7 linked regions of the Homo sapiens genome follow. The protein of the gene in region 5 purifies or fractionates together with the protein of the main gene of each other region. This does not show direct contact. Each region holds a gene or a part of one and is shown on either strand. Other genes may lie near its edges.

Region 1 (4,147 bases), on a different chromosome or scaffold from region 5:
ATAGTCACTGCACTTCAGCCTAGAGAACATAGCGAGACCTCATCTTAAAAAAAAAACAAAAAACAAAAAACAAAAAAACATTAAGGCCTGGCACGGTGGATCACCCGAGTAATCCTAGCACTCTAGGAGGCCGAGGAAGGTGGGATCACCTGAGGTCAGGAGTTCGAGACCAGCATGGCCAACATGGCAAAACCCCATCTCTACTAAAAATAAAAAATTGAGGCCAGGCACGATGGCCCACGCCTGTAATCCCAGCACTTTGGGAGGCCGAGGTGGGTGGATCACGAGGTCAGGAGTTCAAGACCAGCATGGCCAACATGGCAAAACCCCATCTCTACTAAAAATAAAAAATTGGGGCCGGGCACGATGGCTCACGCCTGTAATCCCAGCACTTTGAGAGGCCGAGGTGGGTGGATCACGAGGTCAGGAGTTCAAGATCAGCCTGGGCAAGATGGTGAAACCCCCACTACTAAAAAAAACAAAAAAAAAATTAGCCGGGCGTGGTGGTGGGCGCCTGTAATCCCAGCCATTTGGGAGGCTGAGGCAGAGAACTGCTTAAATCCAGGAGGCAGGGGATGCAGTGAGCTGAGATCGCGCCACTGTACTCCAGCCTGGGTGACAGAGCAAAACTCCGTCTCAAAAAAATAAAAATAAAAATAAATAAAAATAAAAAATTGGGCCGGGCACAGTGGCTCATGCCTGTAATCCCAGCACTTTGGGAGGCCGAGGTGGGCGGATCACCTGAGGTCGGGAGTTCGAGACCAGCCTGACCAACATGGAGAAACCCCCGTCTCTTACTAAAAATACAAAATTAGCTGGGCGTGGTGGCACATGCCTGTAATCCCAGCTACTAGGAAGGCTGAGGCAGGAAAATCGCTTGAACCTGGGAGATGGAGGTTGCAGTGAGCCGAGATCACACCACTGCACTCCAGCCTTGGCAACAAGAGAGAAACCCCGTCTCAAAAAAAAATAAAATAAATAAATTTAAAAAATAATAATAATAATAAAGATATGAGCTGGCATGAGTTAAAGTATATATAATAGGAAAAAAAAAAACAAAAGTTGGTTCTTTGAAAAAATTAAGATTACTTTGTACCCCATAAATATATACAATTATAAATTGTCGGCCAGGCTCAGTGGCTCACGCCCATAATCCCAAAAAAAAAAAAAATTGGCTGGGCACAGTGGCTTACGCCTGTGATCCCAGCACTTTGGGAGGCTGAGGTGGGCGGATCACCAGGTCAGGAGATCGAGACCATCCTGGCTAACATGGTGAAACCCCATCTCTGCTAAAAATACAAAAAATTAGTTGGGCATGGTGGCACACACCTGTAGTCCCAGCTATTCAGGAGGCTAAGGCAGGAGAATCGCTTGAACCTGGGTGGTGGAGGTTGCACTGAGCTGAGATCGCACCACTGCACTCCAGCCTGAGCAACAGAGGGAGATTCCATCTCAATAAAAAATAAAAATTAAAAATAAATAAAAAACTAGCCAGCCCTGGTGTCAGGCACCTATAATCCCAGCTACTCAGGAGGCTGAGGCAGGAGAATTGTTTGAACCCAGGGGGCAGAGGTTGCAGCGAGCCAAGGTCACGCCACTTCACTCCAGCCTGGGCAAAAGAGCAAAACTCTGTCTCAAATAAAAACATTAAAGATATTAACTATGAATAAATTAGGAAACTACAAGTCCAGACAGATCTGGTCTGTGGCTTAAATAACTAGAAATAATGTCGACATCTCTATCCACCCATCCACCTTAGGCCCTCCTCACTTTAAATCTATGATTACAAAATAGAAAACTCGGCTGGGTGCAGTGGCTCATGCCTGTAATGCCAGCACTTTGGGAGGCCGAGGCAGGTGGATCACTTGAGGTCAGTAGCTCAAGACAGGGCTGGCCAACATTGTGAAACCCCATCTCTACTAAAAATACAAAAATTAGCCAAGCGTGGTGGCACATGCCTGTAGTCCCAGCTATTCAGGAGGCTGAGGCAGGAGAATCAATCACTTGAACCCGGGTGAGCCAAGATCGCGCCACTGCACTCCAGCCTAGCCAACAGAGCTAGATTCTGTCTCAAAAATAAAAATTAAAAATAAAATAAAATAAAATAGAAAATTCAGTCTCTGGAGGAAATATACAAAAAGCCATAAGGTGGCAATGTTAAAGTCTGCACATATGCAATCTCTTCATATAATATTCAAAAACAGTAAATCTGCCTATTTAGCTTCCCTCTATTTAAGCTTAATAACCTTTCTACTTACTACTGCACTGTTCTATCCCTCCCTCTCCCTTCACTTTCAAGTGGGCCATAAAACACAACTGAGGCATATTCATATTCACCTGGATATAATTTTATTAACATTAAAATCTGGTAAATGTTTATCTCTCCCACAAAATTAAATCTATATAGCTCTCAACTAGTTTTTCCTATGCCCCCATGAACCTTGAAAGAAACCCAAAGTTCAGCACCCCAGCTGACAATATAAAATGCTTAGACGGGAGTCATTCTTTGAGACGGAGTCTCATTCTAAAATTCTTTGAGACAGAGTCTCGCTCTGTTGCCCAGACTGGAGTGCCGTGGCACAATCTCCACTCACTGCAAGCTCCACCTCCCGGGTTCATGCCATTCTCCTGCCTCAGCCTCCCGAGTAGCTGGGACTACAGGTGCCCGCCACCATGCCCGGCTAATTTTTTGTATTTTTAGTAGAGACGGGGTTTCACCGTGTTAGCCAGGATGGTCTCGATCTCCTGACCTCGTGATCCGCCCGCCTCAGCCTCCCAAAGTGCTGGGATTACAAGCGTGAGCCACCACGCCCGGCTAGGAAAATGTGTTTTTAAAAGTGATGTGATGACACAAAAATTACTTCCATTGCTTGATATGGTTTAATAGAATCAACCTTTATAGTCTCCAATGCCGTGAATAAGTTAAATAAGTCTAATGACTTGACTTTAGACTTCAAGTCATATATATATGAAACATCAAGTCATATATAATTAAGATGCTAACTTCCCCCAGATAAAGAGACAAAGTATTTTTCATCAGTTCTCCAATTTAAAGCAAGGCTATAATATTTTATTAAAAATATCTATTTTGGCCATGGTACCTCCTGCCTACAAGCCCAGCACTTTGGGAGGCTGGGACCAGCAGTTTGAGACCAGCCTGGGCAACATACTGAGAACCTGACTCTACTAGAATTTGAGACAGAGTTTCGCTCTTGTTGCCTGGAATGCAATGGCGCAATCTCGGCTCACCGCAACCTCCACTTCCCGGGTTCAAGCGATTCTTCTGCCTCAGCCTCCTGAGTAGCTGGGATTACATGCGTGCGCCACCATGCCCAGCTAATTTTGTATTTTTAGTAGAGACGGGGTTTCTCCATGTTGGTCAGGATGGTCTCGAACTCCCAACCTCAGGTGATCCACCTGCCTTGGCCTCCGTTATGTGCTGGGATTACAGGCATGGGCCACCGCACCAGCCAGAAATTTTTAAACATTAGGCCAGGCATGGTGGCTCACACCTGGAATCCTAACAATTTGAGAGGCCAAAGGAGGAGGATCACTTAAGCCCAGGAATTCAAGAACAGCCTGGGCAACACAGTGAAACCTTATCTCTCCAAAAAGTTTTTTTAATTAGCCAGGCATAGTGGCGAACACCTGTGTGGTCCCAGCTACTTAGAAGGCTGCAAGAAAAAGTATGCTTAAGCCCAGGAGGTCAAAGCTGCAATGAGTTGTGATCAGGCCACTACACTCCAGCCTGGGTGACAAAGTGAGGCCTTCTCTCAAAAAAAAAAAAAAAAAAAAATACACACACACACACACACACACACTCATGCACGATATAATGACATTTCAGTCAATGACAGATCAGTAAGATTATAATGGAGCTGACAAATTCCTATCACCTAGCGATGTCGAAGCCACTGTAAGGATGTAGCACAAAACATTACTCACTTGTTTGTGGTAATGCGGTGTAAACAAACCTACCGCACTGCAAGTCGTATAAAACTATAGCACGTAAAATTATGTATAATAAATAATACTTAATAACAAATTCGGCCAGGCGCAGTGGTTCACACCTGTAATTCCAGCACTTTGGGAGGCAGAGGCAGGCGGATCACCTGAGATCAGGAGTTTGAGACCAGCATGGCCAACA
Region 2 (4,147 bases), on a different chromosome or scaffold from region 5:
AGGACTACTTGTTAACTCTGTCTTTTTAAGAGATACAGCTGTGAAAATGTATGACCTTTTTTTTTAATGCCATGGGTATTGCATAAATAGGAATAATAATAAATAGGAATGTGTAATAATTAGGACACAGTAATAAATTAGGACAGAGAGGTACTATTAATATTATATTTATTAGAATTTTATTACAAGTTGTCTGTAATATATAGCTAGCAGACTCAGTGAATTGGCAAATAGTATTTTGTTTTAATAAGATTAAAATCAGCAGATGTCACCCTGGATAAGTACGTTAGAATGAATTTTTTCACAGATCTCAGAATTGTCGTTGTTAGAATGGAGAAAAGAATAATGTTTTATTCAGAAGAAATAATGAATTTTCCTCTGTTCTTCAATTCAGGAAATGTTTATTGAATTTCATATGTTCTTGGTACCGCTGAAGCCCAGATGATAAAGTAGTGACCTGGACAGAGAAAGTGCTTCTGTGCTGTAGATCCAGTCTCTGTGACTGAACAGATGGGAACAGGACTGAAAATGTTAGCTGTTACACATTTCTTTCTAAAACAGCAGAAATGATAAGAGATTACTGTGTCCATATTGTGGAGACAACACTTGATAAACCAGCTATCCTTTCTTGGCATGGAGGGCAGGCTGATTTTTGTGTAGTCATCTAGATTTCTTGTCTGCTTAATAACAAGGTTGTGAACAAAGGTGAACTCATCCATTCAGGTTGTTTCCTAAAGATGTTTAAATTACTAGTTAAAAAATATCAATTGAACCAATTATTCTGATTATAAAAGTAACAGTATTGTTTCAGTAAATTTTTCATGTTTTAATGGATTAGTTGGGTGATAGCCTTTGATTTTATTATTCCGTGTATTTAACATTGCTTTCTAGTGATTTAAGACAAGTCCTGTTTTCTTAAATTTTTATTAGCAGAGACTACTTTTAAGTACTGGCTTAAACAGAAATAATTTTAAGTTAAGAATATCCATTTTCAAATTGAGTATGATCAAGGAGAGTTATGTACGGCTAATAATTAGAAGTACTAATATCTAATATTGTTTTCCTTCATGCAGGTACCATACATTATCTGTATCATAAAGTTTCCATTTGAAGGTTATTTATTTTATATATACACCCTTTTTTAGGTCAGCTTATTTCGGATCAAGTGGCAGAAATCGTATCTAAATACGACCCCAATGTTTACAGCATCAAGTATAATAACCAATTAGCAACTCGGACTGCACAAGCTATTTTTGATGACAGCTATTTGGGTAGGTAAAACCAAAATTTACTCATTTTTGGAACTGTGGTACATATATCTTATATCTGAGTATGGTCTTTTAAGTAGAAAAATATTTTATGTGAAATAGATTAGGATTTTTTGAAACATACAGAATATACAATTTCAAATTGTTAATGAGTACTTTGGTTATGTTACGTTTCAGTAATTGAAATTGAAGACAGTGATTATTTGTGCAGTGATAATAATAATAGCTAGCCTTTAAGATATGCTTACTGTGTTCTGGGCATTGTTCAAGGTGACTTGGTTTGTATTCACTCATTTAATCCTCACAAGTCAAGCATACTGTATTATTCTCATTTTGTAGGTGAAAACACTGAGGCACTGAGACGCAAAATAACTTGCCCAAAGTCACTCGCTTGTAACTTGCTGTTCAGAGATTCAAATGGAGACAGTCTAACTCCTGAAGTTTTCTTCATGATGTTAAATAAAAGTTTTGGTCTTTAGGACTTATTAACATGTGTTCTCTCTTTCAATTTCTTTATGATATATTAAAACAAGTCATATATGACAGAAATAGTACTTGCTGATTGAGAGAATTTATTTGTTCTTTATGATGAGTTGTAAATTTGGTGTTTTTAACAGACTCCTTTGTAAAGTTAATAAGACAATTGTAGTTTTGTAATAAAAATAGACTATTTGAGTATTTAACTCAGTTTCATTTAAAATTCATATGTCATATATATATGAATCTGTTATGACTAGGGGACAAAATATTGCATAAGTAAAGGAGTTTCTTGAAAATATTTTCAAGGAATGCTTACTCAGCAAGCCTGCTGAAGATAACGTCCTTGTCCTGATGGTTCTCCCCTTTGGTTTCCTGTTTAGGTTATTCTGTGGCTGTCGGAGATTTCAATGGTGATGGCATAGATGGTATGAAGTACTTGAACTATATCTAATCTTTAAAAAAATTAGATTAAGTATTTGAAACATGTGGCATTGAAAATTTTAAGCAGTTTGAGTGGCTGGGTGCTGTGGCTGCAGCCTGTAATCTCAGCACTTTGGGAGGCTGAGGCGGGTGGATCCCTTGAGCCCTGGAGTTCAAGAACAGTCTGGACAACATGGCAAAACCCTGCCTCTAGAAAAAACACAAAAATTAGCCGGGCGCGGTGATGCACACCAGTGTCTAGCTTCTCAGGAGGCTGAGGTGGGAGGATCTCCAGAGCCCAGGGAGGTTGAGGCTGCTGTGAGTTGTGATTGCGCCACTGCACTCCCGCCCGGGCGACAGAGCCGAGACCCTGTCTCAAAAAAAAAAAAAAAAAAGGAAAAGAAAATAAAATTTTAAGCAATTTTAAACCATTGTTATGGAATATAACAGAAGAAATGAGGAAGATGTTAGCACACTGGTGAGAGTCCAGGCTAGGTCTGTGCTGAACTTCCTCTAGTGGCTGCTGAAATTGAGACAGCTACACTTGGCTTCAGTGCCTTTCCTTTCTGCTTCTTTTTAGCCCCCAACACTGTTAGTGATTTCCTTAGCATTTTCCTCCTTGTCTTCAGCAAATTCATTCCTCTGGGAGGAAGAATTAGTGTCTTCTTTCTTTAGGCATCCTTTGTTACCTTCTGGGCCATCTCTGTACGGTTATTACCCCATCCTCTCATTGTCCATCCATCTTCCTTCAGAGCTCCGTTTAGGAATCACAGTCTTTACCTGATTTTGATCACATTTTTGTGCCACAGCCACTTCTACCCCACTTCAGTTTGCTCTGTATTATTTTTCATTACTGTACTACTAAACTAAATGTAGTTTTTCTTCATTCTTAGGTTACTTTATCTTGTCTATTCTTGTTTAACAATATTACAAATGACTTGAGGGCTTATTTGCATATGTTTGAGAGCCCTCCAGAATTTGTATTTTGTAAATTTTGATTTTATAGTTTAAAAATGCTGGGCTATTTATTACGGAGTACCAATTTTTCTAAATTGATTGTTTGTTTTGAACTGAAGTAGTAAAACTTAAAGCTTGCTGACATAGTCACTTCTGGTCTGCAACTTCCAGTGTTGTCCTAAAAAATGAATAATTTGTTTGTTTGTTTGTTTCAGACTTTGTTTCAGGAGTTCCAAGAGCAGCAAGGACTTTGGGAATGGTAGGACAGTTAAAAGGTATTTTTTAAAAAATCTCTAAGTTATCTTCTATTTTACCAGATTTCACATACTTCTATTTTTCCTTCACAGGTTTATATTTATGATGGGAAGAACATGTCCTCCTTATACAATTTTACTGGCGAGCAGGTATGCTTCCAAAATATGATCGTCCTCTCCCACTATAAAAGCAGTATGTACTCATTGGAGAAAATTTGCGAAATAAAACTGTAAAAATGAACTATAATCTCATCAAATAGATAATTCTTCCAACTCTTACCATTTTGGTCAAACTATTATCATTTCTCTTTTGAGCGTGTGTGTGTGTGTGTGTGTGTGTGTGTGTGTGTGTGTGTAGTATATAAACAAAAATTGGTTTACTCTGTATTTTTCATTTTGTCTTGCCTTTTTCACTCAATATTTTATCATCAGAGTTTCTAATTTCTTAAAACTTTCCTTGGCAGTATCAGAATGGTTTAATGATTCCATAATATTCAATATTCTAGATATAAGATGGGCTTTAAATATTTCATCTTTGTTTTAACCAAAGTAATTTGGATATTTTGGCTTGTTTTTGTTTCCTTTTTTTTTTTTTTTTAGGAAATGCAAAATCACATGCATACAAAACCACAAAGACTTCCTTTTTCTTTACTGAAAAGAAAAAAGAGAAAAGAATTCTTTAAATTCTTTTTTAAGGATGATCAATGCCTTATAATTTTATTAGATGCAACAGAAAGCATGGCACAGATATGTGTATTATAGATATTA
Region 3 (4,147 bases), on a different chromosome or scaffold from region 5:
CAAGACCCCATCTCCAAAAAATTTAAAAATTAGCCAGGTGTGGTGATACACACCTGTAGTCATAGCTACTTAGGAGGATGAGGTGAGACAATCACCTGAGCCCAGGAGGTGGAGGCTGCAGTGAGTTGTGATGGCCCCACTGCACTTCAGCCTGGGAATCAGAGCAAGACTCCATCTCAAAAAAAATTTTTTTAAAATCCCAACTTTGAGACTAAAGTAGACCGTAATTTACCAACCTTCTTAAACATGTGGAGCCTTTTTTATCCCAGAGGCACAATTGAATTTATGTTTTGATATAATCACATTCACACAATTCATTATCCAAAATATAAACCGTGAACCGGGAAAAGTCTCTTTCCCATTCTCATCCCAGCCACCCAGGGAGCGGCTGGATTCATGCCTGGCTGCTTGGCTTGTCTAGGATAAGCCTTTGCTCCATCCATGGGTCTCCAGCTCATGGGTCGGAAACCCCCGATGAAGACCAATCCTTTCCTTTGCTCTTGAGGCTCAGAGAGGTCAGGCGACTGCTCCAGGGTCACAGAGCAAGTCAGCGGCAGAACCAGAATTCACATCTGGGTCTCCCCGCCACCTCATCACCTCCCTGCCTGCTCTCCCTCCCCACAGCTCGGGGGCTGGAACATCACAGGTCCCTGGGCCAAGGACAACTTCCAGGACACCCTGCAGGTGGTCACCGCCCACTACCGCACCTCACCCTTCTTCTCTGTCTATGTCAGTGCCGATTCCAAGAACTCCAACAGCAACGTGATCCAGGTGAGCTAGCTTGAACCTGCAGCGGTCGAGGGGGCGGGCACGACCTCTTCCTGTTTTGAGTTTAGCAGGACCTGGGGTGGGAGAGGGGCTTGCCCTGGGTGGGACGGCGGTCTTCTAGTTTCTGAGCCTGGGTTATTTCCAGAGGCCCCACTGGTGAGATCTTTGCAGGCTGCTGGCCTTGCGTAGATGGGCACTGCATACAGGTGAAACTTTGGGTGCTGATGGGTTTCCGTGGGCCCCAAGAATGATGTCAACTCCTGGGCACAGCTGAACCCACATCCTGGTTTCCCCCTCCTTAGCGTCTGCTCTTTGTAACTCTTCTTGGAATGGGTTTGAATCCATCTCTCCCTGTCAGAGCATGCCCCAGACAGAGGCTCAGCCTGCCCAGGGGAGCTCCAGCACTGGTCTGCCCCAACCTCCAATGCAGAAGTGAGAAACCCAGGCTGGGGGTCCTAAAAGCTGAGTTCCCAGCCCATCTCTACCATTCAGTCACTGTGTGACCTTGGGCAAGTGCCTCAACCTCTCAGAGCTACAGTTACCTTATAAATCAAATGGATTGCAATAACACCTGTCCTAGGTATGCCAAGATGTGGCCATGGGTGCCAATAGTAGCAAGCAGAATTTGACCCTCCCCTCCTGCTTGGCAGGCACTTGACCAGCACTGTCTTCTTGAATCCCCATTCTAGCTCTGAAGGTTAGGTTTTATTTTCCCTATTTACCTGAGAAGAAACCTGAGAATCAGAAAGGTTCAGTAACTTGGCCAAGATCACACAGCTTTTGAGTGACTCTTAACCACCTGGAAAGCGTTGGGGAGATAGAGGCACTTTGCCGAGGCAAGTAGCTGTTTAAAAAGGAGGGTGGCTCTGTCCAGCCCTTCTGAGGAGCCCAGGAGCCCTGCGGGGGGGGGCCACGTGGACAGGCAGGAATGTGTCATCCCGTCCCTGAGTGGGCTTCTCAGTGACTGTAGCCAGCAGTCCTGCTTCTCCAAGGGCCTGAGCTGGGCCTCTGCTGCCATGTGCCAGCCATTCCCAGGGCAGGAGGCCGTGCAGTGGATACACGCATTGCAACACGAATTCCCTCTCATGCCTGCTTCTCTTGCCAGGTGGACCAGTCTGGCCTGGGCTTGCCCTCGAGAGACTATTACCTGAACAAAACTGAAAACGAGAAGGTAAGCGTGCCTCTCCCCTCCCAGCCTGCCTCCCAGCACGGTCCTTCCTGCTCCGTGTCCACACCCACACCTGTGCAGGTCTTTGAAGCTAGGGGAGCCCAGGGGTGTCAGTGACCTGATGGGTGAAACAGGCAGACCCTGGCAGGGGAGGGACACCCCTAGGCTGGCTGTGTCACTCAGGCATCATGGACACAAGGGGCAAGAGACAGGTATCATTTGTCCTGGTTCTAGAGAGAGGCAGAGGCAGCAATAACAGCTACCACAATTCGCCTGGCCCTTTATACATCACCTGTGACCCTCCCATTAACCCTGCAGATACTGAACTTCATTTGCCTCATCTGTCAAACAGGAATTAGTTTTGTCTTGCCTTTTACAGAAGAGGGTATCAGGCTCAGAGATGCTAAGTGATCTGCTCAAGGTCACATAGCCAGTAAATGACGAGCCTGAGATTCACATCCGGATCCACGTGCTCCGAAGCCCATGGCTCTCCCTCCCCCTGGCCTGCCTCTTGTGATGCCTCTTGGGGCGACCTCACCTGGAACTCATTCATCTGTCCTTTCATCCTTCCGCCGGCATGTACTTGACCAAGCGCCCACAGAGTGCCTGATGCTGGGGAGATGGTAGCAGACAAGACCACCATAGCCTTCGTCCCACAGGGCCTGTGGTTTGGTCGGCGAGGCGGATATTATTTAACTAAGAGAAAGTGAAGCTGAGAAAGTCTACCGTGGAGACCTAATTCAGATCTTGGAACACGGGTGGGGGGTGGTCAGAAAAGATGCATTCTAAGAATGGAAAGACAGCCCCAGGACAAGCCCTGGAAGACAGGGACCAGCCCAGGTGGGGACCTGTGAGACGAGCCAAGACTTTGGGCTTTCTCCTGGAGGCTGTAGGGAAGCAGCAGAGAGACACGGCCCCGAGATCATTCTCAATGCTGTGTCTCCCACGGGTGTCTTCTTCTTTTTTTTTTGAGACAAAGTCTCTCTCTGCCGCCCAGGCTAGAGTGCCATGGCGCACAATCTGGGCTCACTGCAACCTCCTCCTCCTGGGTTCAAGTGATTCTCCTGCCTCAGCCTCCTGAGTAGCTGGGATTATAGGCACCTCCCACTATGCTCAGCTAATTTTTGTATTTTTAGTAGAGACGGGGTTTCGCCATGTTGGCCAGGTTGGTCTCAAACTCCTGACCTTAGGTGATCCACCCACCTCAGCCTCCCAAAGTGCCAGGATTACAGGCGTGAGCCACCACACCTGGCCCCACGGGTGTCTTGGGGGCACTGTGCAGCCCCCTGGCTCCCTGTGCCGGACTTGGCTGGCCAAGCCCCCCACCAACTCTCGTCCAGTGGATAGTGGGGGGGCAGCCACTGACAGTTTGGGGTATGGGCCCTGCAGGTGCTGACCGGATATCTGAACTACATGGTCCAGCTGGGGAAGCTGCTGGGCGGCGGGGACGAGGAGGCCATCCGGCCCCAGATGCAGCAGATCTTGGACTTTGAGACGGCACTGGCCAACATCACCATCCCACAGGAGAAGCGCCGTGATGAGGAGCTCATCTACCACAAAGTGACGGCAGCCGAGCTGCAGGTAACTTGAGCGCCGGCTGCTAGGGAGGCTGGGATGGCCTCCAGGTTTCAGACAGGGCCCTGGACTGGGGGCTTTTATACTCATTTCATCTAGTCCTTGAAACTATGTGACAAAGGAAGGATGGTTGTTATGCCCAGTCCACAGATGGAAAAACTGATGCTCAGAAAGGTCAAGTTACCTGCTGAAGGGCACACAGCTAGTAAGTGACTCCAAAATAGGCGCCTGGCCGACACCAGGCTGCTTCTCTGTAATTAATAGTGTTTACTTGGAGGCTCGGGGTCATGACCACACCAGCTTACATTGACAGCGCCTTTCCAGTCTCTCCAGCACCAAGCACATCGAACTTGGTTACAGTGAGCACTTAATAAATGCATGGTGTGGATTCTGTCATTACTTTTCCCTTTTCTGAGCCAGATCAAGGTCCGGAGGCTCCTAAGTGGCAGAGGAGCCAGCCGCAGATGGGCTCACTGTACAACAGGGCGTTAGATCTGTGATGCTCTCTGTCACCCATTGGAGAAGCCCAACGTCCAAGGGCTCAGCCTCTGCCAAAGGCTGCCCTCTGGTGGCTGCTTGGTTCTTGAGGGTCCAGAGAGAATAGCTTGCTGGTTCCTTCTTTCCAGAGCATCAGCT
Region 4 (4,147 bases), on a different chromosome or scaffold from region 5:
AATTAAATACACTGAATAAGACTTGGCATACTTCTAACTTGTTCAATCTTCCAAAAGCCTAGTGTTGCTTAAGGACTGTGACGCTGTTATATAAATTGTATCTGTATTAGCAGGTAAAGATCACCTAACATAATAGTTATGAGTTTTTAGTTATATAACACAGCAAGAAAACAAAGTGCATCCACTAAGTTTGAGAAATGAACACATTTATGGGTCTGAAATGACATTCATTGACAATCAATTATACTTCCAGATAACAGATGGTAAGTAAAATATGTGCTCTTAAAGTTGTTTTTTTCTTCCATGTATTACACATTATATAAATATGTAAATATATAAAGTTTGGTGGAATTCTTCAAGGAGAAGGAAGAGATATTAACTATATATTTAAGATCAACAGCAAAGCTAGTTTACTAAAATATATTTAAATCAGTTTAATTATCAAACATGACGTTGATCAACCAAAATTTACAATATATAAACCTAATCTTAGAGGATTTATATAAAGTATGCAAAAATCAAACAAACCAATTACTGATAACTATATAACCCCAAGAAGAATGAATGCTAAACACTCCTTAAGAAATAAAAAATTGGTTTAAAATTTTAATATCAGTATCATTACTTGTGAATAAAAGTTAGGTATGAGACTTCCCTCTCTTCTCATTAACTTATAATCAACTGTTTTGTTTTTTTTTTTTTGAGACAGTCTCACTCTGTCATCCAGGCTGGAGAGCAGTGGCAGTGGCATGATCTCAGCTTACTGCAACCTCCACCTCCCAGGTTCAAGCAATTATCTTGCCTCAGCCTCCCAGTAGCTGGGATTACAGGCATGTGCCACCACACCTGGCTAATTTTTGTATTTCTAGTAGAGACGGGGTTTCACCGTGTTGCCCAGGCTGGTCTCCAACTCCTGGTCTCAAACGATCCACCTGCCTTGGTCTCCCAAAGTGCTGGGATTACAGGCATGAGCAACTGTGTCCAGCCAGCTACGTATTTTGAACAGCAAGAGACCAGGCCTTTTTTTTTTTTTTTTTTTTTTTTTTTTTTTTTGAGATGGAGTCTCGCTCTGTCACCCAGGCTGGAATGCAGCAGTGCAATCTTGGCTCATGGCAACCTCCAACTCCCGGTTCAAGCAATTCTCCTGCCTCAGCCTCCCGACTAGCTGGGATTAAAGGTGCCCACCACCAGGCCCGGCTAACTTTTATATTTTTAGTAGAGACGGGTTTTCACCATGTTGACTAAGCTCCTCTCGAACTCCTGACCTCAAGTGATCTGCCAGCCTCAGCCTCCCAAACTACTAGGATTACAGGCGTGAAATGAAAATGTACAAATGAACAAATAACTAGAAGAGGGCTAGAGTTTATATCAAGCATATTTTTATGCTGTTTTGTCTCTTTTTAGAGACAGAGTCTTGCCATGTTGCCCAGGCTGAAGTGCAGTGGCTTTTTACCAGTATAATTCCATTATTAGATCAATCATGGGAGTTTTGACCTGCTCTGTTCCCAACAATATTTTTAGTTTTACGACCAACTCTCAGTTGCAATCTCTATATGGAATTTTACAAGCAAGTTTTATAAGTTTTATAGAAGGCTATAATATCTCTTATGCTACAAACAAAATTCTAAGAAAAATTAAAATATATATACTCTCTCATAGCATTATAGAATGACTACTACAGATTAAAACAACAAAGTGCCAAGGTTCACATTATAAAACAACTTAGTTCATTACTTGAGAATAAATATATCGATTTCCTTTAAAAAATGGTTCAGGGGCCAGGAACCATGGCTCACGCGTGTAATCCCTAGCGCTGTGGGAGGCTGAGGTGGAAGGATCACATGAGGCCAAGAATTTGAGATCAGCCTGGGCAACATAGCAAGACCTTGTTTCTAAGAAAGAAAAATTTTTAAATTGGCCTGGCGTGGTGGTCTATGCTTGTAGTGCTAGCTACTGAGGAGGCTGAGGTGGGAGGATTGCTTGAGCCCAGGAGTTCAAAGCTGCAGTGAGCCACCATTGTGCCACTGTACTCCAGCCTGGGCAACAGTTAGACAGTGAGACCCTGTCTCCAAAAAAAAAAAAAAAAGTTCCCAAGGTGTTATACAGTACAGAAAATAATCACAGGCATTTCCCTCTCACAGTAAAGAAGTATTCACAAGTACTTGCCATATTTTTCTTTTCAAGGCTTCCTGATCCCTGTGCATAATAAGTTTACTTCACTGCTTACAAACACTGGTAAGTACCCTTGGAGTATTTTATCTACACAACTAGCTCAGCTCTTTTCCGTCTCTCTCTTCTTCTTTTCTTGGCGGGGCAGGGCAGGGGCGGCGGGGGGCGAGGCATAATCCCTTTACCTCCTTAATAAAGTCCAGATTTAGTCTTCTACATCTGTTATTAAAGTATCTAAAACATTTCAATGCTCCAACTACAAATTGTATTGTATCACTTACTCATTTTTACTGTTTGCAGCCTCAGTTTGATTGTCCACATTGAGCAAACTAATTCTAAACTTCAAAATACTAGATAGAACACAGCTAATACTTCTCTTTATAGTAACACTCCCAACATTTTTTTAAATTGATTGCAGATAAAGACATAAATTTTTAAAGTTTGAAGGTAATCCTAAAATAAAAATGATTACCCTCAGAAATGAAGCTATATGCCAAATAATCTATTCACTTTTGCAGATTTCAAAACAAGTCAACAAAAAAAGAAATTACTTCTTTTTTAATCAAAGAATTCAGGATTTTGACTAAATTAACTCTATTCAAACCAAATGCACCCAGGCATAATCCAGTTACAACACTGAACTGAACTGGTTTCCTGGGAACTGAATTTATCATTAATTTTATTATTTCTACATATGGTGGCAATATTACCTTACTCAGGAATCTCTTCAGACTTACCATCTGACATATCCTTAAGGACCAGATTCTCCAACTCACTCCACTCAGTATTCAGACGTTTCATTAATTTGAATGCATTTACTGGATGCCCAACAAATCCTTCTGGATCTTTTGTCGCTGTACTAGTTAGCCGATCTAACTTCTCTGCCCATCTACAGATGTAAAACATAAAAACTGAATATTTATATTTCATAGGGAAAAACACAATTTAATGAAACGCTCAGAAAAAAAATGACTAGAAGTTTTTGAGTTCAACTATATCTGTAGTTTCTTTTTAAAGTAAAAGTATACGGTCTCGGTCTCTTTAAAAAGCGACATCCTCTTGGCAGAATCAATACAACTATAGGACTTTTTGTTTTAATTTTGTTTCTCCCAAATGGTTACAGTAAATGGAACCTCCCTGTCTTAGTAAAAGTTGTGAATGAATCCCTCCAGTAAAAGTCTAAAAATTTTAGACTTAGGTCCCAGGGCCAAATAACTGATTATTACAAACTACAAATTAGCCCAACCCAAATTCAATTACATGTTCATTTAAATCAACTTATACTAAATTTTTACATCCAGTTTCTAGAAACTGTATCTTAAAATGAAAAACTGAACACTTAGCTACTCATTAAATAAAAGACAGGAATTCTCAGGTCAGGATTAACTATGAACATGAGTCAATTAAAAATAAATTCATATTTGAGAAAAACTGTATCAATTAAATAACACTAACGCTACCATCACTATAATCTCTACAATGGAACCATGGGAGTAAAGGATAAGTAGAATTGGAAAATTGCTGCAGCAGGTGGCTTGACTAAGAGGTTAGAAGAGGATAGAAGATATTAGCAATACTTTTAAAATTTATCAGTCAGGCTGGGTGCGGTGGCTCACGCCTGTAATCCCAGCACTCTGGGAGGCTGAGGAGGGCAGATCACCTGAGGTCAGGAGTTCGAGACCAGCCTGGCCAACATGGCAAAACCCCGTCTCTACTAAAAATACAAAAATTACCCGGGCATGGTGGCGCACACCTGTAATCCCAGCTACTTGGGAGGCTGAGGCAAGAGAATCACTTGAACCTGGAAGGTGGAGGTTGCAGTGAGCCACGATCATGCCACTGCACTCCAGCCTGGGCAACAGAGCAAGACTCTGTCACAAAAAAAAAAAAAAAAATGTATCAGTCAGCTTCCTGTATCCATCCATATTCTTTTTTTTTTTTTTTTTTTGAGATAGAGTCTGGCTCTGTAGCCTAGGCT
Region 5 (3,824 bases):
CAGGCATGCGCCACCACGCCCAGCTACTTTTTGTATTTTTAGTAGAGATGGGGTTTCTCCATGTTGGCCAGGCTGGTCTCGAAGCCCTGACCTCAGGTGATTCACCCACCTCAGCCTCCCACAGTGCTGGGATTACAAGTGTGAACCACGGTGCCCGGCCTCACATGAAACTTTTGATTTATAGAGAGCAGAGGGAAGAGCCGGCTGTGCCCATCCTTTTCTGGGGCCATCGAGTGGCTCCTGGGCAGCCCCCAAGGTTAGGAAGGGCAGGAGCAGCCAGGGTTCTCTGATGCCCCAGACTCAAGCACGAGGGAAGGTCTCAGGGGTTCCATGTGAGCCTCATGGATGTCTCTGCTTAGCAGAGCCCTGGCTTTGGGCATTGTCCAGATAGGGGGTGAGAACCAGATCTTCTCATCTCCAGGACCTCAGACGTATAGTTTTCTCAGATTTCTGTGCTTTCTGGGGCTGGGCTACTAGTGGAAGAAAGCAGTCTATTCTGTCTTCTCCCAAATCTCCCAGATGCCCAGTCTGTTGAAGGAGGAGCAGAACCAGGGGGCCTTTCCCGCTGAGGCCCGACCTGTGTCTCCTTCAAATGACACGCGGGACTCAGGGCCTTCCCATGACCATGGGGCCCAGGGGGCGTCACCTGGCCCAGGGCCCAGTGCTAGAAACAGATGACCCCAGGAGGAGGAGGCAGGGCAGGAGGGAAGCTGGCAGGGCTGGGATGGTCAGCCAGGCTGAGGGGCGGACTCGCACCAGGATGGAGCTAGGAAATGATCCAGGTGTGTTTGGCGGCTGCAGGTGGGTCCGCATGGCTGTGCAGGGAGGGAAGGGCTGCGTGGCAGGAGAGCAGCCGGGGGAGGCCCAGACTCTGCTGAAGAGATGCCTGTTGTGCCGGCCTCCACATCCGCTGCCCGCTCCTTCCGGAGCTCCTGCCCCGCCATGCTCAGCCTGACTCTGACCAACACGTTGGAGAGAAGAATGATCCCTTTGTGCTATTAAGCTTGCTTATTTGGTTTCTAAGTGCTTCATGCGAACCTAGAGGAAAAAATTATTTTCCACCTTTGTTTGTCTTAAGAAAATAACACACTTTTTTTTTTCCTATTTGAACAGGCAGACGGCTAATCCACATGGTCTTCGTCCTTGACGTCGTTTTACAAGAAAACAATGGGGCTGGTTTTGCTTCCCCGTGCATGATTTACTCTTAGAGATGATTCAGAGGTCACTTCATTTTTATTAAACAGTGAACTTGTCTGGCTTTGGCACTCTCTGCCATTCTGTGCAGGCTGCAGTGGCTCCCCTGCCCAGCCTGCTCTCCCTAACCCCTTGTCCGCAAGGGGTGATGGCCGGCTGGTTGTGGGCACTGGCGGTCAAGTGTGGAGGAGAGGGGTGGAGGCTGCCCCATTGAGATCTTCCTGCTGAGTCCTTTCCAGGGGCCAATTTTGGATGAGCATGGAGCTGTCACCTCTCAGCTGCTGGATGACTTGAGATGAAAAAGGAGAGACATGGAAAGGGAGACAGCCAGGTGGCACCTGCAGCGGCTGCCCTCTGGGGCCACTTGGTAGTGTCCCCAGCCTACCTCTCCACAAGGGGATTTTGCTGATGGGTTCTTAGAGCCTTAGCAGCCCTGGATGGTGGCCAGAAATAAAGGGACCAGCCCTTCATGGGTGGTGACGTGGTAGTCACTTGTAAGGGGAACAGAAACATTTTTGTTCTTATGGGGTGAGAATATAGACAGTGCCCTTGGTGCGAGGGAAGCAATTGAAAAGGAACTTGCCCTGAGCACTCCTGGTGCAGGTCTCCACCTGCACATTGGGTGGGGCTCCTGGGAGGGAGACTCAGCCTTCCTCCTCATCCTCCCTGACCCTGCTCCTAGCACCCTGGAGAGTGCACATGCCCCTTGGTCCTGGCAGGGCGCCAAGTCTGGCACCATGTTGGCCTCTTCAGGCCTGCTAGTCACTGGAAATTGAGGTCCATGGGGGAAATCAAGGATGCTCAGTTTAAGGTACACTGTTTCCATGTTATGTTTCTACACATTGCTACCTCAGTGCTCCTGGAAACTTAGCTTTTGATGTCTCCAAGTAGTCCACCTTCATTTAACTCTTTGAAACTGTATCATCTTTGCCAAGTAAGAGTGGTGGCCTATTTCAGCTGCTTTGACAAAATGACTGGCTCCTGACTTAACGTTCTATAAATGAATGTGCTGAAGCAAAGTGCCCATGGTGGCGGCGAAGAAGAGAAAGATGTGTTTTGTTTTGGACTCTCTGTGGTCCCTTCCAATGCTGTGGGTTTCCAACCAGGGGAAGGGTCCCTTTTGCATTGCCAAGTGCCATAACCATGAGCACTACTCTACCATGGTTCTGCCTCCTGGCCAAGCAGGCTGGTTTGCAAGAATGAAATGAATGATTCTACAGCTAGGACTTAACCTTGAAATGGAAAGTCATGCAATCCCATTTGCAGGATCTGTCTGTGCACATGCCTCTGTAGAGAGCAGCATTCCCAGGGACCTTGGAAACAGTTGGCACTGTAAGGTGCTTGCTCCCCAAGACACATCCTAAAAGGTGTTGTAATGGTGAAAACGTCTTCCTTCTTTATTGCCCCTTCTTATTTATGTGAACAACTGTTTGTCTTTTTTTGTATCTTTTTTAAACTGTAAAGTTCAATTGTGAAAATGAATATCATGCAAATAAATTATGCAATTTTTTTTTCAAAGTAACTACTGCATCTTTGAAGTTCTGCCTGGTGAGTAGGACCAGCCTCCATTTCCTTATAAGGGGGTGATGTTGAGGCTGCTGGTCAGAGGACCAAAGGTGAGGCAAGGCCAGACTTGGTGCTCCTGTGGTTGGTGCCCTCAGTTCCTGCAGCCTGTCCTGTTGGAGAGGTCCCTCAAATGACTCCTTCTTATTATTCTATTAGTCTGTTTCCATGCTCCTAATAAAGACATACCCAAGACTGCAATTTACAAAAGAAAGAAGTTTATTGGATTTACAATTCCACATGGCTGGGGAGGCCTCACAATCATGGCAGAAAGCAAGGAAGAGCAAATCACATCTTACATGGATGGCAGCAGGCAGGGAGAGAGTTTGTGCACAGAAACTCCCATTTTTTAAACCATCAGATCTTGTGAGACCCATTCACTATCACAAAAACAGCACAGGAAAGACCCACCCCCATGATTCAATTATCTCCTATCAGGTCCCTCCCACAACACATGGGAATTATGGGAGCTACAAGATGAGATTTGGGTGGGGACACAGAGCCAAACCATATCATTCTGCCCCTGCACCCCCCAAATCTCGTATCTTTACATTTCAAAACCAATCAGGTCTTCCCAACAGTCCCCCAAAATCTTAACTCATTTCAGCATTAAGTCAAAAGTCTACAGTCCAAAGTCTCATCCAACACAAGGCAAGTTGCTTCCACCTATGAGCCTGTGAAATCAAGAGCAAGTTAATTACTTCCTAGATACAACGGGGGTACAGGCATTGGGTGAATACAGCCATTCCAAATGGGAGAAATTGGCCAAAATAAAGGGGCTGCAGGCCCCTTAAAAGTCCAAAATCCAGCAGGGCAGTCAAATCTTAAAGCACCAAAATGACCTCCTTTGACTCCATCTGTCATATCCAGGTCACACTGATGCAAGAGGTGGGTTCCCATGGTCTGGGGCAGCTCCACCTCTGTGACTTCGCAAGGTATAGCTTCCTTCCTGGCTGCATCATGGGCTGGTGTTGAGGGTCTGCAGCTTTTCCAGGCACATGGTGCAAGCTGTTGGTGGATCTACCATTCTGGGGTCTGGAGAATGGTGGCCCTCTTCTCACAGCTCC
Region 6 (4,147 bases), on a different chromosome or scaffold from region 5:
ACTGGGGATATGAGCTGTTAGCTAACTTGGGCACAGTGATGCATTTACCATGAAACTCGCAAAGTTAAGCTTTGGGTCTCTCACTTGCACAGACCCTTGCGAAGCCCTGTACCTCATTCTATATCCCAAATTTTCTTTTTTCTTAAGAAGGACCCTTCAAATTGTATAAGCTTCAGGACCCACAAAACCTGGATTTGTCTCTGCATGTGTATTATTGTAGGACCAAGTATAAAGCACTTAGCATAGTATCAGGCACAGAATAGGTAATCAATATGTGGCAGTCATCTTTATTGCCACTAGTATTACTATGGGAGAATTCATTCATAACTTGATTCTAATGTAGTTATAATATAATCTACTCTGATATTTCCAGTTCTTTGTTTTTTCATTTGAAGATTGTCTATGCCCCGACTTGTCTATGTCAAAAAGGGAAGAGGGAAAAGGGATGAAATTCAAATGAGTAGGTGTGGGAAGCTTAGTAAGAGAATTCCTATCCAAAAAGTTGTCTCAAATGATAATTGTCCTTGAACCCTGCAGTGACCAGAGGTAACTGAAGAGAGACTTTTAATTTTGGCCAGTGAATATCGTGGAAGGAACCAAGACAATTTTGTTTCATTTTTGGCCTCAGTGGTGACTGCCTCGTATTGGGCAAGGCCTGTAATTGTTTCTGCTTCAATTTTCTCATTTGCAAGAGAGGCATAATAGTACTTCTCTTTTTCCCACACCCTCTTCCTAGGGGATATTGTGAGCATTAATAAGGCATTTCCTTACAAGCGTTTGGGCCTTCATGAAGAGAGAGCTTTGCAGAGACCCAGCAGTTCCTTTTCCTCCCTTAGGCCTGGAAAGGCAGGAGTTTACGTTACATTTCATCTGGTATCCCAGTGAACTGCCTTGACACCTAGCACAGTGCCTGAGATACATATTAAATGCCTCTTCACTCGCCTGTGATCATTTTAATAGAAAGAAGAGTGTCCTGAGAATCAGCAGAACTGAATCAAACATTTTTTTTCTGTCCCTAAGGATTTCTTGGACTAAGCTGAACAAGCACAGTGGCAAGTTATTTAATCCCTCAAATCCTAAGGATCCTCATTTTGAAAATAGGAACAATAAGGATAAGAATACTTAACTCAGAGTTGTCACAAGAATGAAATAATATGATATCTATAAAGCACCCAGCACAATGCCTCGCACAATGCCTGAACGTTAACAGTTGTTATGTCTTTAGCTATATTTGTCATCTGTGAATTGAAACTTATTATACAAGCTATGGTTCCTCTTAGCTCCAAACTTCTGAGATCCCATGACCTTTAAGAGCAGCTATGCAGTTCAGAATATTAAGTTTGCGCTCCTAATCTCTGCAGACGTGCTGGCAGGTTGACTGTCTCCCAGTAATAGGGATGCAGAACTGGCCACAGTCAGGGCTGGCCAACAAGGGATGGGATGGCAAGGGAACCAGTGGGAGACTGTTTACACCTTTGACTTCCTCTTCACAGGTCAAGGCAGGACTGTAGCATTAGGTCTCAGAGATGCAATGAACAGGACAAATACACTTCCCCTTCATCTGGACCTGAGGCTCTGGGCAAGTCAGTACCAGCTGGTTTCTTTTGGGAGCCATAGAAACTCTGGAGCTGTTCTACCGATTCCTCAAGAAGTAAAATATAGGCCAGGCGTGGTGGCTCACGCCTGTTATCCTAACACTTTGGGAGGCTGAATCGGGTGGATCACAAGGTCGGGAGTTCGAGACCAGCCTGGCCAATATGGTGAAACCCTGTCTCTACTAAAAATACAGAAATTAGCTAGGCATGGTGGCAGGTGCCTGTAGTCCCAGCTACTCGGGAGGCTGAGGCAGGAGAATCGCTTGAATCCGGGAGGCGGAGGTTGCAGTGAGCCAAGATGGCTCCCTTGAACTCCAGCCTGGGCGACAGAGCAAGACTCTGTCTCAAAAAAAATAAAAATAAAAATAAAAAAAGAAGTAAAATGTAATCACTGATAACCAGATTGCTTTGATTGGTGACTATGGGATCTTGTTTTTTAAAGTCAAATCAGCAAAACATCTTTATTGATGTGTATGTAAAGGCATTCAGCTATATATCATTTTAAAAGGCTCCTTCTTGCATATCTACCTCATCTCCTGAGTTGCCTCTATTCAAAGAAGACTTATCTTAGTCTGAGATTTTTCTTGATCAGAAAAAAACCTGTAAAGATATCTTAAATCTGTTATCTTACGGTCAAGGAAATTGAGGCTCTTGGAATAGAAGTGACTTATCTAAAGTCAAATGGAGAGGGAAGGAGAGAGCGTGCCAGCTAGCCTTCTGATCCTGAACCCACTTTTCCCATCTCAAGGATGACCATACATCCCATTTGCCTGGAATAGTCCTACATGGTTTCTGTGTACCTGTTGTGCTGGTGTAATCACTAACACCCCCTTTCCTCCAAAAGATTTCTGCTTTGGACAATAAATTCTATGGCCATCCCTCACCTCTCATGCTACATTGTCCTTACAGACCACAATGTATCCCGCTTCTTGGCTCTCTTAAGGAGTTGAGGCCTACTCAAACTAGCTCTGGCAAGAGAGGATTCTTTTTTTTGTTTCTGTAAATCTGGAAGGGGAAGCTCATAGAAATCAAAGGGCAAGAACCACGGCACAGTAAGGCCTCCTGAGAGGACAACCGAAAGTGGAAAGTCAGCAGGAAGCAGGCACACTCTGCCTCCCACTTTTTCCTCTGCTTTCTCCACCAACAGGCTTCCTCTGTTTACTCAGCCTGGCTCTGTACTCATCCGGGCTTGCTCAGCCCCGCCTCAGTGTGACTTTCCAGCTGTTGACCTCTCATAGACATGCTTCATCTCCTAGTTTCTCTTTTCCAAGTTTATAACGGAGCAATGTGATTGGCTCAGCACAGGAAGAAACTATAGCACTGTAAACGGAGGCAGTGTCGTTAATTTCCTTGCAAGATTCTCTAACTCCTAAGCAAAATTATCCAAATTCTTTCCTGGCTTTTAGAAACACGATCTTGTGATATCAAAATCATATTAAGTTTATTTTAGTGTCTTACTAATTCATGTTGACTATGAGTGCATTCCTTATTAATGATTAAGACAATATAGTAGGCTAACAGTTGTCAGCATAGCCCCTAGACTCTAGGAGATGCATCTAAATCACTTACAAAGATTTAGAAAATACCAGACCCCATCCCAGACTTGCTGAATCAGACTCATTAGGAACAGAACTCAGGTTAAAGTGCTTATCATAAAATCCATTACTGGAGGCAGGTTGCTGTGGGATCGTAATCTGCAATTTTGGGAATATGCATTTTTAAAAAAGGTGTTTATATTTGTATAGTGATTATTTTAGACCATGTCTTCATTCCTTAAGATGGTAATTCTGACTGAGGAGATTACTACTTATAATTACTATTAATCTGCAAGTTTACATTAAAGGAAATATTATTTGGTGAGGAGGGGAAGATTCCTGCCTGTGGAAACTACTTTGCTTTATTGTTAAATAAATCCAAGATTTCATTCTGTCAGGCCACAGCAGAGGGGCCATCTGTTCTGCCAGACATTTGCTTATTTCCCAGGAAGAATCAGGAGGTGGAATTATAAGCTCATTGATGAAAACATAGGATGTTGGCCAAGTTACTAGACATTCCTGGCCATATCATCAAGATATGCACTATCTATACACTATACACTAAGGAAGGGACCATTTTTAATCCAAGCTGGTAACTGGAAAAAACAACCAAGGAAAAATAAAGACCACTTTAGGTGTTTGCTTTCTATATCTAAATGCACTTTTGGGTACATGCTTTGGCAGTCATTCTTTCATTTGACAAATATTTACTGAGTGTGTACCATTTGCAAGGCAGTGTGCTAAGAGCTATGGATATAACACTAAACAAGAGGCAGTCTCTACCCTTGCAGATTTTATAATCCAATTTAAACTCCTGGGCCCCTCATATTCTTAAAAATTATTGAGGACCCCAAAGAACTTATGTTTCCATACCTATTGATAGTTACAATATTAGAAATTGAAACTGATATGTATTTTTGAGAAATGTTTAAAACAGAAGACTACACAAGCACATATTCCAATATGACATCATTATATATCACGTAACCTCTGGAAGACTCCACTCTACACTCAGAG
Region 7 (4,147 bases), on a different chromosome or scaffold from region 5:
GGCAATCAAGAGGAAAACTCAAGACAACTGTGCGCTGTGCTTGTCCTGTTTTGTTCAAACCACGATAATTTTAAATAAATAGTAATGTTCAACATTCACTGATGACATTATCTATCAACCACATCACACCTGGAACACAGTAGATAATAAATGGCAGCTGTTATACCTTCCTTCTTGAAACAAAATCCTGTCATTTCATTCTCATTTTAACTTTGTGTTAAGCTTCTACAATCCATAAAAATGATAAAACAATAAAATGGTCCAACATTATCTAGTCCAGTCTTATTTTTACAAAACATTGACTTTAAAAGTCCCTGAGATTTTAATTTTACTGGTTTAATCTGTCTTCCCTACCCTTGTTTAAAAAAAAATAGAATCATGTGTCATTATTGGTTGAGTACCCGTTATCTGAAATCCTTGGGACAAGTGTTTTGGATTTCAAATATTGAAATATTTGGCTTATATTTACCAGTTGAGTATCCCAAATCTGAACATCGGTAATCCTAAATGCTCGATGAACATTCCCTTTGAGTGTCACATCAGAGCTTAAAAAGCTTCAAATTTTGGAGCATTTTGGATTTCAGATTTTCAGATTTGGGATGCTCAACCTGTACTAAAGAGGAAGACTAATAAGAGATTGCTATTATTAATAAATTTCTCTCAGAAAGCTTTCAAACTGCAGTCTGTAGATCACCATCTGCATCAGGACCACTGATGGCTATAAAAGGCAAATTCCTGGGTTCTGCTCAAGATCTACTGAATCACAATCTCTGCTATGAGGCCATTTTTATGACAAATTCCACTCCTTAAAATCAAATTAAAATTCCCTGGATTGCAAGCTTATTCCTCCTTGCCCACTCTTTAAAGCGAATGGGAAACACTGAGTCTCTAGACTATGCTTTCTTCCAGATTACACAGCTGTCTTTTGTTTCTCTACATTTGGTAAATTAATTGCAGTTCTTCAACTTTTCTTCTTTGATTTTTTTTTTTTTTTTTTTTTTTGAGATGGAGTCTTGCTCCATCACCAGGCTGGAGTGCAGTGGAGTGATCTCATCTCACTGCAATCTCCACCTCCCAGGTTCAAGTGATTCTCCTGCCTCAGCCTCCTGAGTAGCTGGGACTACAGGTATGAGCCACCATGCCCAGCTAATTTTTGTAGTTTTAGTAAAGATGGGGTTGCACAGTGTTGGCCAGGATGGTCTTGATCTCTTGACCTCGTGATCCACCCGCCTCGGCCTCCCAAAGTGCTGGGATTACAGGTGTGAGCCACTGCGCCCAGCCTCTTCTTTGATTTTTCTCTTTCTCACCTTTTTTTGACATCAATGCACTGTTTCTTCCTAAACCTCCTCCAGCCTCTCAATGATTGAGATTGGCAATGCAGCAATTGCAAACCAAACAGCAATGACCATATGGGAGGATTAGTTCATGGAAGTAATACTTTACCCTGTATGGATTCCTGTATGGATTCCTGTTACGGGTTAACTTTTTAAAACATGCTTCTGGACATATTTTATTCCTGAGATCAATCCTCATTACCTCCGCTTCAGGCATTGTATTTTGGAACTCTTCCCAATTCTTCCCACTGAAATTACATCTGCAAATTAACTATGTAATATTGAAAATCAATTTTTCTCCTCACAAGTATAGCAGCCATCCAAATGTCAGGCATGAATTACATGAATATGCTTACCATGCCCTAAATTCAGGGCACTATTAAAAACCCAGAAGATACCATGGTTGGTTGGGTTGAGGGCACAGCACTCTCCCAGAAGCAATTACTCATATGCAGATGCAGGAAGCATTTAAGGGTGTACCATTCAGACAGACAGCTCTCGGAAAAATGCTCTGGCTCTTAAGCACAATGCTTATGCCAGCTCACAGTCAGCACTTCATACCTGCCCAGCCAGTGTAACCGGTGCCATCCCGAGGGTCTGCTGATTTCAGGCCTCTCTCCATTTGCTGAAGAAGCTCCCGAATCTTATTGGTCAAGCGTTGTGAGAACTCAGGAGTCAGCTAGATATTAAAGGAAAACAAGTATCAAAATAATGTGGGTCACCCAGCTTGCTGGACTATAAGCTATCAAAGACAGAAAGGTATTTCTTTTCCACTTAGGACATATTTTTCCACCTGGAAGACTAAACAATTTATTTTCTATTCTTAAACAACAACATCACATTAACAAAATTTATAAAATACCGTTGTAACTTATACATGTTTTAAATAAAATTTTTAGTTAAATACTAAAACAGACTGCCAATGATAAACTGGCTCACAGTAATTTTCCACCTAATAGTAATCGTCTATTATTTAAACCAATATTATAATAAAGTCTTTTTATTAAATTAAGCACAAATCAGATGTTTGGTGCTTTCAAACTACTGGATTTTTAGTATTCAAGCTGCAGCAAGGTAAATTCCCTAAAGAAACATCTAATTGCTCTTATTTAAAAAAAAGGATTTAAAAAAAATGAAGTAGCCAAAGAAAAGCAAAACAAATTCATGTATATCAAGAGCCTTAAGCAGAATAGAAAGAATATCAAACTTAGCATCATAAACCCACGTCCAGCACAGTGTCTGGCAGAGAATACGGGCTTCACAAATGTTTCTCAATGAATGAGCCTGTCTACATCCTTACCCGCTATTAGCTGATCTTGCTCAACTCATAACTTCTTTATGTTTCAAATACCTCCATAAAGTCAGGATAATAATAACTGCCACGCCAATTTCAAAAGGTACTTTGGGGATTAAATGAGATAGTGTATCACAAGTCTTTCTCATTCAGGGATGTAAATGTTGACATTTTTACTAATTCTTTAGCAGATCAAGGGTCTAAGGCAAGTAATAGTTTAGATATGGATTGAAAATACACTAAGGCTGGGGCTGTGGGGTTAGTACCACCCATATGAAGGTCCACAGATGCTGTGCAAACAGTGAGGCTCACACAATCATTACGTTATTCTTCTTAAAGGCAAATGAAAAATAATTTTAAACTTCTGCACACACTGAATCAGTGTCTTAAAAAGTCACTGAAGGCCGGGCACAGTGGCTAATGCCTGTAATCCTAGCATTTTGGGAGGCCGAGGTGGGCGGATAACCTGAGGTTAGGAGTTCGAGACCAGTCTGACCAACATGGAGAAACCCCATCTCTACTAAAAATACAAAATTAGTCGGGCATGGTGGTGAACGCCTGTAATCCCAGCTATTCGGAAGCCTGAGGCAGGAGAATTCCTTGAACCTGGGAGATGGAGGTTGTGGTGAGCCGAGATCGTGCCACTGCACTCCAGCCTGGGCAACAAGAGCGAAACTCCATCTCAAACAACAACAACAACAACAACAAAAACCCAAAAAACTCACTTTATTGTCTCCCTCAATAATTTTAAGAACTTGCTGTGATTCTAAGACTTGAATTTCACATAGTAATTAAAATTTCAGAACAATGTGGGGGAAAGTTACAAGGGTATAAACATTTTATTTTACCATGTAAGGATTGTAGAAATAAACCTAACCACTCACATCAGAATCTCATTTTTAAAAATGAGATAAAATCTTAACACTGAAAACAGCAAGAAGGCAGTATCAGAATTAACAACAACAACAATAGTTTAAGGATACGTTAAGATTCACTTCGGAGGAGCATCCTTGATAAGGCAAATCAGACTTTCAACCACATCTGGATTATTTAATCTAAAGCACCACTATGATCCCTTATTTCACTCTTTAGAAGAAACGACGTTGTTTGACAGACACACTCCCATTATTTAACAATTTCTGCAAAGAGGTTAAGATTTCAACTAGACTTGAAAATACATTTAGTAGGATAAAATATACTTCAATGTTAATACAAAAGGCCTATAAATCTCAGCTAGATAGAAGAGTGCATCTATATTGAGAACACGTCATCTACTGTATATAGATCATATATAATTTATCATCTTGCCTGGCCTTCAAGAGATCAAGAATAATGAGAATCTCTCAGCCTTATGAAGGGAAGTTACTTTCTGTTTGGCACATTCTGCATTTAATAAAGGTGACCTCTGTGAGAATATTGATTGCTTGTGGTACACCACCAAATCATTCAAACTCTAGCTATAATCTGAAGTCTCTAAAAGTCCTTTTTTCTTTTCTATTTTTTTCTGACAGATGCCAGA

Evidence for each region.
Region 1: the proteins of TMPRSS2 (region 5) and YTHDF2 purify together in Homo sapiens (affinity purification with mass spectrometry, with the first as the bait; one large-scale study listed by BioGRID). This does not show direct contact.
Region 2: the proteins of TMPRSS2 (region 5) and ITGAV purify together in Homo sapiens (affinity purification with mass spectrometry, with the first as the bait; one large-scale study listed by BioGRID). This does not show direct contact.
Region 3: the proteins of TMPRSS2 (region 5) and ECE1 purify together in Homo sapiens (affinity purification with mass spectrometry, with the first as the bait; one large-scale study listed by BioGRID). This does not show direct contact.
Region 4: the proteins of TMPRSS2 (region 5) and P4HA1 purify together in Homo sapiens (affinity purification with mass spectrometry, with the first as the bait; one large-scale study listed by BioGRID). This does not show direct contact.
Region 6: the proteins of TMPRSS2 (region 5) and SCARB2 purify together in Homo sapiens (affinity purification with mass spectrometry, with the first as the bait; one large-scale study listed by BioGRID). This does not show direct contact.
Region 7: the proteins of TMPRSS2 (region 5) and LANCL1 purify together in Homo sapiens (affinity purification with mass spectrometry, with the first as the bait; one large-scale study listed by BioGRID). This does not show direct contact.

Annotation. Positions count from the first base shown.
Region 1 is NC_000001.11:28,760,781-28,764,927, reverse strand, and holds part of YTHDF2 (YTH domain-containing family protein 2), read right to left. Parts: intron 1-4,147. UniProt on the Homo sapiens protein: Specifically recognizes and binds N6-methyladenosine (m6A)-containing RNAs, and regulates their stability. M6A is a modification present at internal sites of mRNAs and some non-coding RNAs and plays a role in mRNA stability and processing.
Region 2 is NC_000002.12:186,634,937-186,639,083, forward strand, and holds part of ITGAV (integrin alpha-V isoform 1 preproprotein), read left to right. Parts: intron 1-1,145; coding exon 1,146-1,271; intron 1,272-2,128; coding exon 2,129-2,173; intron 2,174-3,340; coding exon 3,341-3,384; intron 3,385-3,472; coding exon 3,473-3,529; intron 3,530-4,147.
Region 3 is NC_000001.11:21,255,317-21,259,463, reverse strand, and holds part of ECE1 (endothelin-converting enzyme 1), read left to right. Parts: intron 1-624; coding exon 625-771; intron 772-1,873; coding exon 1,874-1,939; intron 1,940-3,325; coding exon 3,326-3,517; intron 3,518-4,147. UniProt on the Homo sapiens protein: Converts big endothelin-1 to endothelin-1.
Region 4 is NC_000010.11:73,069,123-73,073,269, forward strand, and holds part of P4HA1 (prolyl 4-hydroxylase subunit alpha-1 isoform 2 precursor), read right to left. Parts: intron 3,059-4,147; coding exon 2,907-3,058; intron 1-2,906. UniProt on the Homo sapiens protein: Catalyzes the post-translational formation of 4-hydroxyproline in -Xaa-Pro-Gly- sequences in collagens and other proteins.
Region 5 is NC_000021.9:41,463,443-41,467,266, reverse strand, and holds the end of TMPRSS2 (transmembrane protease serine 2), read left to right. Parts: intron 1-1,113; coding exon 1,114-1,125; coding exon of another isoform or gene 1,126-1,147; 3' UTR 1,148-2,962; downstream 2,963-3,824. UniProt on the Homo sapiens protein: Plasma membrane-anchored serine protease that cleaves at arginine residues. Participates in proteolytic cascades of relevance for the normal physiologic function of the prostate.
Region 6 is NC_000004.12:76,207,181-76,211,327, reverse strand, and holds part of SCARB2 (lysosome membrane protein 2), read left to right. Parts: intron 1-4,147.
Region 7 is NC_000002.12:210,470,064-210,474,210, forward strand, and holds part of LANCL1 (glutathione S-transferase LANCL1), read right to left. Parts: intron 2,014-4,147; coding exon 1,896-2,013; intron 271-1,895; exon of another isoform or gene 1-270. UniProt on the Homo sapiens protein: Functions as a glutathione transferase. Catalyzes conjugation of the glutathione (GSH) to artificial substrates 1-chloro-2,4-dinitrobenzene (CDNB) and p-nitrophenyl acetate.